2 separate regions of the Homo sapiens genome follow, and region 1 is linked to region 2. Evidence: fine-mapped expression QTL. A gene starts in region 2. The other region holds a variant in brackets. All regions are shown on one strand. Distances are from middle to middle. Region 1 overlaps TENM2 (teneurin transmembrane protein 2). Region 2 holds the start of TENM2 (teneurin transmembrane protein 2).

Evidence for each region. PIP is the estimated chance that this variant, and not a neighbour inherited with it, causes the effect.
Region 1: its variant is the best candidate, but not a certain one, in a credible set for the expression of TENM2 in lymphoblastoid cells (GEUVADIS, PIP 0.71).

What each region holds. Positions count from the first base shown.
Region 1 is chr5:167,835,924-167,840,320 of GRCh38, reverse strand. All of the region lies in intron 4 of TENM2 (teneurin transmembrane protein 2), which reads right to left. Among named protein-coding and RNA genes, the nearest start is that of TENM2-AS3, 120 kb to the left of the region's middle. The variant C/T (reference allele first, on the strand shown) is at 2,600.
Region 2 is chr5:166,977,333-166,981,729 of GRCh38, reverse strand. TENM2 (teneurin transmembrane protein 2) reads right to left here and starts at 2,701. Exons shown (of 31, transcript NM_001395460.1): 1 at 2,207-2,701. RefSeq lists enhancers at 2,643-3,142, 3,143-3,644.

The DNA.
Region 1 (4,397 bases), 860 kb before region 2:
TTGGATCCCAAAGCCATTTGTTTGCTTAGCATTAAAGTCAGGGGCCAAGCTCTGCTTTTTTGGCTCTGAAGTCTCTGTCAAAGTTAAAATTTTATTTCTCTATAATCAGACCCTCAGATCAAATGATTACTTGCTGCCACTTTTAGCCCTTCCTTATGGGCAAAGCATTTGCTGGGTTGGCCTTGAATAAGGAAAGTTTGGGTTGGGTGTGGTGGCTCACGCCTGTAATCCCAGCACTTTGGGAGGCCGAGGCGGGTGGATCACCTGAAGTCAGAAGTTTGAGACCAGCCTGGCTAACACGGTGAAACTCCGTCTCTACTAAAAATACAAAAAAATTTAGCAGGGCGTGGTGGCGCATGCCTGTAATCCCAGCTACTTGGGAGGCTGAAGCAGGAGAATTGCTTGAACCCGGGAGGCGGAGGTTGCAGTGAGCCAAGACCGTGCCACTGCACTCCAGCCTGTACAAAAAAAGCAAAATTCCATCTCAAAAAAGAGAGGAAAGCTTGTGAATTAGATAGGTAATTTAATTTTTTTCCTAACATTGGAAAATTTTCTGTCACTAAAAAATAAAACAAATAAGCAAAAACTGGTATTCCTTCCTTAGAGAAACTGCAAACACTGCATGTGCTCATTGCTAATAAGGGGTATATTTTCAATATCAATAGAAATTAGGTCATTATATTGGAAGACAGGGCATTACATTCACTTTACATTTTGGTCTCCATTCTTTAAACACATACATACATACACACACACACACACACACAGACACCTCACACTTTTTCATTTCTGAAATGACAGCCAGTTAAAAAAATCCATACATCAGGGCCTATCTAACCTCTTCGTTTTTTCTTTTCTAAAAGCTATGATGCCTTGGTTTTCGATGCTAACAAATGTCATATGACAGGTTCACCGATTTACTGTTCTGCACCCTTTTTAATTATGGATGTATGAAGGAAAATTTCACTGAGGAAAACAATAAATCATCAGTGAAATTATTTGTTCGTTGAATGAGCTGAATAAACAGTTGCCTTCGGGGCAAAGATTCATCTGGCATCTCTTAAGTCATCCCATATTTTTTCCTTTCTATTCTCATGAAAAGCAGGACTGGGCCTGTAAGAATCAACTGGGAATGTGGGTGTCATTGAGAAGCAGAGGAACCAGTAAACACCCGACTCACAGATGTCCTGAGTGTTAAACGAAAGGATTTTTGTCAAGTTTTAATCATAACAATGACAATACTTATCAACACTCATTGAGTGTGCTTTGTGTACCTGTGTCATTTCATTTGATTCTCACAACAACCCATTTCCCTATTCCTATTTCACTCAAAATAACACCCTAAACTAGAAAGCAGCAAGCCCAGAATTTGAACCAATTTCTGACTCCACGCCCTGCGGTCTCAGCCATCAGGTGCTTATAAATTTCCCCAAAGAAAGCCACACTTCCTCAAAGAAGTCCTCATTCATTATTTAAGCTTTAAAAAGAACAAACCCAAGTTCACGGTTGAAACCCCGATCTATAATTTTGCTTTAGACTTATAGAATCCTCTTTTTTCCTGTATAGGTGATGAAAAAAGCAGATTTTCCAGTGCCTCCTCTCAGAAAACCGAGCTTGATCAAAGTATGCAAAGTAGGCAAAGAATCGGCTGAGATAGGAATCACAGAAAAATGTGCTATCATATGAGTTTTTAGGAGGAGGTGAGGGAAATAAGAGTAATGAGATTATTAGTTTCAATTTGAAAGCATGGAATGTGTCAGCAATTATAACTAACTGTTGCTATTTTTATAATAAATGTCACCCTCAGAGTTCCAAGCAGACAGTAAGCAATGGAAGCTTCCATGTAGGAATCAGTTTAGTGTCCTTCTTTCATGTCCCTGTTGAACTAGTCCAAAAAGTTATGAAGAAACATGGCCACTTTGAACGCATTCATACAAATAGTACTGACAGTTTTCAAGCTAGGACAAATATCTCAGCTTTGGACTTCCTCCCACAGCAGCCAGTCAGCTGCCTGTAGAGAATCCCATAAATATCTCGGCTGGAACATTTGTTTGAAGATACTTAAATGGACCCTGGAGATCCCAACATTGGAAATAGATTTGAGCCAGGTAATCAGATATTCACTGCCGACCATTTCTGTGGCTACTGTTGTATCACCAAGCATCAGATTCCTCGTCATTATACTTATCAGCCATTGCTTTATGTCAGAAGTTGCCAACTTGTGTGGAGTGAATTGCTGTGAGTTAGTATTTCACACTAGTGGTTCAAGTCGGTATTTCTTCTGGGCATTTCCCATTTGCCTCAATACTAAACCAGGTGGGGATGCACAAAGGGATTCACTTGGACATTCTGAGGGGAACCAAAAGGAGGATGAAGGGGCCCTGGGAAGTGGAAGACAGACTTCAAGGTCCCTGGGACAGTTTTGTTTGTGGTTTCATATGCTGCGCTAAGTAGATGCACTAAGATGCACCTACTGCAAATGCGTAAGAGCGTGAAGGTGGCAGAAAAAAAAAAAACCAAGCCCTTTTTCAGGTAGCATGGGAACTAGTTGTGTGGTTGGAGTCTATTGTTCTTTGGCACTGAACACCTACTTGGTAGT[C/T]TTGAGTCAGAGCAATCTTAAGAGATTTTTAAAAAGCACAGAGAATTTAAAGTTTTAACTGTGCAAATAAGAATATGGATATCTTAATAGAAAGTGGATGAGGTGGGGTGAACATGCCATTCACAATGTATACCTATGCTCTCCTTAATACATAAAAATGTTTGTCAGCATCTTTTGGTCAAATTAATGTAACCTTTAGAAATGAATGAATGCTATGTTTTAGACTAGTAATGAAACCAACATTTTAATAAATGTTAACATCTAGTGCTGGGAAAAATATGGGAAGTCATCCCTCTCATATACTGATGAGAGAGCGTATTTTGATCTACAACCTTTTTGGAGGGTGATTCAGCAGTAGGTTCATACTCCTGAATCACTCACCTTGTAGGATGTTTTCTTGAGGTAATTATCAGTGATGTATACAAAATATGCAGGGTGGCTCACTCTTTCAGCTTTTTGTAATGGTAGAAACCAAGAAATTTAATATCCAACAGGGGTGGAATGCTTAAATAACCAATGGCGAAACTACATATTGAATCACATGTAGTCCTTACAAATAAAATTTTACAAGAATAGTAAATCATGTGAGAAATATATTATAAAACACTATCCAGATATATCTCTGTGTGTGTGTGTGTGTGTGTGTGTGTGTGTACTTAGGCATACATATATACTATAAATGGAATTATAGGAAATTTTCTTTGCATTTTTCTTTCTACTTTTTTGAATTTACCCAACTCAGGAAAATGACAGTAGTTTATATACTACTAGTAGTTTATATAACTATATGAAAAAAGCAGATTTTCCAGTGCCTCCTCTCAGAAAACCGAGCATGATCAAAGTATGCAAAGTAGTCAAAGAACCGGCTGAGATAGCCGGTTTGTAGTTTATGTAACTACAAAACTACTAAAGCACTTTATGATCATTTTTTTCTGAGTTGGGTATATACACACATATATTGAGATAAATATGTATCTTTACTGTTAATTCTGCCCCCCTCTCTGATGTCACTGATTTAATTAACCTGTGAGTCCTATAGTACATGAACACTTGGCACCTGTCCTTCTCCCAGAATGTTCACACTTATCCCAGTGCAACAGATAAGGCAATGTGATGAAAGTCCTGGTGAACATGGTTACAAGTGTGACATTTTTTCTCTATTTATTATTTTTTTGTCAGGTAGCTACAAAGCAAAAGTGAGCAAACTTGATACAGAAATCCAAAAATATATTATTCCATAGTTGGATGGGTCCTTAAAAAGATGTCACAATTTGTCACAGAGGCTGCCACCTCAATTGGACCATCCACAAACTCCTAATGGCATTCTCAAGTGGTCTTAGATGTTTCCAGTGTGAGTTCCTGGAGGTAGGGCCTGGTCGGAAACCCTTAGGTGAATGGGACTGTTTGTTAACTCCAATAGACAATTATGAAGGGCAATTAAAAATTTAAATTATGTTAACAGGCCAGAGAAAAATGACTGTTTGCAGAAATCAGTGGCAATTACCAGACATAATGGTTCTCAGTTAGGCTGGAGGGGATTTTCAGTCATTCATAATTCACTATCTTAAATGTATCATAAAAAAGTAATTGTCACTTGTTAATAAAACTTACTTAAAAACAACGTTGCTATCTTGTGTAGAAAGTAACTCTTTCTTCCTTCTCCCCCACCAGTTTTAAAAAAGGTATATTCTTAATTTTAAAATGTAGTGCAGGCTGGTTCAAAACAAAAATCAAACAATGTGGATGTGTATTTTAAAAAAATACAGTCCTTTCCAGTCCTCTACTTGCACTTCCCAGG
Region 2 (4,397 bases):
TCATAGTCTTCGAGTCTAGTGAAGATACTGAAACTGAAGCTAATTTTGATGTTTCATAAATAAATTCATGATCTGAATATGTTACATAACAATTAGAAATCTTGCCCCACGAGCCTAGCAAAATAAGCCCTTAGCCTGGTCAGTTATCTTTTCCTACACATGTGTGTGGAATATGCCAGAGAAATAATACAGCTGCCCAGCATGGGGTATATTGCTTTTTGGTTTGGGTCCTAGAAGGAGGGAACCTGACGCTTTAGGTACCTTGGGTTCTTAGGATTGAAGTTTACTATATGAAATCATTTTTCTTTAGTACCTAGACAAACAAATGCTTCACTCAAAGACAACTGTGGTCTTAATGAATGCAAGCTGGATTTTCCCCCCACTAACTTGATCAAAACAGTCCATTCAAAGGTCCATGAAAATATTTTAAAACAGCAATATTGCCATCTCAAGGGACCCATGAATAAGCTGAGCTTTCATTCTAAATAAAATGCCTTATTACTTTCAGCAGACTACAAAGGAAGAAATAAGCTTTAGGTCTTAGGAATTCTGTTCACAATTTTAAGAAAGGCTTTTGTCAACACAGGGGACCCAGAACAGGTGAATTTGCATGGTGCCTTAGAGTAGGTTTTTTTCTACATAAAAGAAGATCTGACTAGTTGAGTTAATTTACAGTTTGTTTTGTTTTTTGGGGCTGAAGAGCCTTCACTTTTTCATGTAGTTCTTCCAACATTAGTTAAGTTTACATTTAAACAAAGTTTAAGAGTATTATTGCAAACGTATTCTTGGCACATAGACAAGTTGCTGCTCTATGATGTGGCAACCACCTAGCAGAAGGAGGGTTCCTTGAATAACAACATTTTCCCTCTGTAGAATGTATGTGTCTCAGAGTATCCCTGAACTGGATGTCCTCATCTCAGTTTAGAGTTCAGGGTTTCTCAGGATGATGATACATGTACAGAAACTGCAACCTGCTGTACCACAGAGGCCCCCTTCCTCCATTTAAGCTGCCATTATATTAGTTCATTTTTCCATGGCTTAGCAGAAATTTTACAACTATACACTGATTCCTTTCTAAATTGCTGATTTGCCTTTACTCACTGGCCCTTCAGTTTTTCTACTCAACTGGAACTGAAAACTTAAGAGGAAAAAAGCAAAACAAATAAAACATGGTAATGATCAAGAACCCTCCAAAGAACTTTAAATGATATGAATGCATTAAAGAGCTGTTGTATATTAATTTTTAAATAATATTTAAAACAGATCCCGGCAGCCAGAGTTACAGAGTGAGTTCTATTTTTAAGAAAAGAGTTAGAGTTCAATTTGCATTCATTATGCTGGCTATTTTAAATAATTTTATTCCATGTGTATGCAGAACCCTCCCCTCCATTGACAAGATGCCACTTCAAGTAAGATCTAAGAGAGATATTGCTGTACGTGTCTCACAATTTTGAATAAAACAGTACCAGCAATCTCCCTCTTTCTCCATAGCCCTAAATTTATTATTAAGTAAATTTAGCAATAGCTCAATCACTGGAGCCCAAGACAGTATGTGATGCACTAAAGCACTTATATGTTTATTATCTTTTGCAAGCAACATGGGTAGTGGTGTCTATTATTGCCTCCTGCAAATCTGTAGCAATGTGATGCAAAACGGCATTTTTAAAGAAATTCTCTTTTGGAATGCAAATGATTCCTCCTGCAATTTTGAATATTTTAGCCAGCATGTACCATACAGTAGTTCTGGAATCACTGGCATCTCTCATGCTGTCAAAACTGAGTCAAATGCATTGTAATCCTGGAGAACGATAACCTTAAACAGCAATGCAACGTTAAAATGCATCCTAAAAAAAAATCCCTATAATTGCGATGAACATTAGAGAGAAACCGGCAGTCCTTCTGCAGGGAAATAACAGTCTGCTCTAGCAATCTTTCCCCTCCCCCCCTGAAACTCATGCAACTAATGATGACCTCCCGAAGTGCCGAATTTAAATGTTCCAGCATTCATCTGAGGATGAAGGAGGAAAAAAAAATACATAGAAAACCATGAAACAAGTTGTAAACTGCACAAACGCAAGGAGAGAAAGAGAACTGCAGCTGATTCAGGAGCGATTGCAGAATGAGGAGCAACAGAAAGGAAACAAGAAAGAAAGAAAAGGGGAAAAAAGCCTTAAGCATTAAAGAGTAAGAAGTGAAAAACATTTACCAGCAGCTCGGTCAGTAGCTTCGCTCCCTGACACCATCTACATAGATAACTTAGCCTAGAGTCTTCGGTCCCAGCTCGCTTTGGAGCAAAATTCCTTCACTTCGAGGGGGCAACACACACCCTCAAGAAAGAGAGAGAGAGGGAAAGAAGGGGAAAAAAAATAATCCCAAAGACCAAGACAGGCTTTCCCCCTCCTCCCTCTTACCCGCCCCCCGGACTCCCCAAACGGTGCTCGCTTCTGCACAGTTCTGCCTGCTGTGCCGCTGAGCTCGATGTTGCCGCGGCGGCTGCTGCTGCTGCTGCTGCTGCTGCTGCTGCTGCTGCTGCTGGTGGTGGTGCTGCTGCTGCTACTTCGGAAACGATTAGGAGGAGGACGCCCAAGCACGACCTGAGCCTGCGAGCCACCCAGGACCAATGTGCAACCTGCTCTGGAATCAAACCCATAACACACGCACGCACACCCAGTGACTCCTGCACGCGAGCTCTCGCGCGCACACACGCGCTCGCCCGCGCGCCGCACAACACACGCGCGCGCGCGCACACACAAACACACACACACACACACACACACACACACACACACAGAGCGCCGTGCGCCGCCCGCTAGCCCTCGCGGTCCCTGAATGGGGAGTGCGAGCCAATCCCTGGGCCCCGAGAGCGCGCACCGGCCCAGGCCGCCGGGGTTGGGTGGTGGCGCTGGGGCTGCAGCTGCTGTGGCTGCGGGGTACGCAGCCAGGGAGGGGCTCACGGCTGAGAAAGAGGGGCGCTAGGGACACGTGCACCCCTTTGTCTGCAGAGAGAACCCCAGCTGGGCGTTTCCAAGACCAGGAACTGAGCGCGCGAACCCCGGGCGGCTCAGAGTTCAGTTCGGCTCTAGGGTTAGCCTGAGGAGGCTTGGATCCCTAGCTGCACGCACCGAGGGATCCGCTCGGCACCCGATGCACCACATCTATGCACCACAGCTACACCCAGGTCTCTGCAAACAGGAGAGCACAGCAAGCCTTCGAGTCCTGCGGACGACCCGAGCCTGCCCTGGCTCTCGCGAGCATGTCCAGTGCTTGGCTGCACCCAGACCGCTTCTTCCAGGGTTAGGAACGCAGAGCAGGGCAGAGCCGAGCTCTGCAGCTTCCAGAGAGAAGCAAAGGTTCCAGAGTCTTCAGCCGCTGCTCACCTGCCTCATCTAGGCTGCCCGGTGGCTCTGAACCTGCACCCAAGGACGTAGTGATGGGGAAGCTAGATTTCCAGACGTCAGAGAGGAGTTACTTCTCTTTTTTTCATATAGGGAATCTTTGAAAAGAAACAATTCTTAGCCCAGGAAAGGCTGTTTCAGTTTACAGGGTAATTAACAGAAAATCCAGCAGGGCCTGGTGGTTTTAATAGTAACAGCTGAACAAGTATTGCTTGTTCAGCTCTGTGCAGGCTCTGTGGAATGTGTTGCCTATGAATTATCTGATTTTAACCTGTTCAGACACTGTATGATCCACCCTAGGAGGAAACCGAGGCCCCAGAATGTTACCAACTGCTAGTATATCATACCCAATACATCAAGAATCTAAACCCTGCAGTCTGGCCCTCAGTCACTGGAGACAGGATGAGGAGTGTGGATGAACGCTAGGCAAGTACAGCAAGGTAAAGGCCTGGTGGGTGTTTGGGTGATAACATCCTCTGGCCTTCAAGCTGTACCTGGCTTGTTGTCTTCAATAACCTACAAACCTTGAAAAACTGCATGCCTGAAATTTGCCAATGTCTTCATAGTACTAATATTAATAATACTTATCTCTTGATTACATACTCTTGTTCATCCTTTAATTAGGTGCCATCTTAATCTTTAAAGGAACTCTGTAAAGAAACTATCCTACCCCCCTTCTACATATGAGGAGGCTGAGACTGAGATGTGGTGTCACTTCCCTCAAGGGACAGGCCCTGAATGAAGACACTGTTTGTCCTATTGCAAGGTCTATGCTGTTTTTTACTAGAATTTGCATCTCCCTTAATTGCCTTCTGAATAAAGCCATGGGATGAGGCCATGGCAGTTACTTTTGATTTCATTCAAGAAATTCATTGATTTTGTAACATTCACTCATTCAAGGATATTTACTGAGCATTTACTTCCTTCAAGGTGCTATCCTAGTGGTGACGGGATGACAAGGGCATTATCTCTATACTCTTTGGGCTTATATTCTAACAAGAA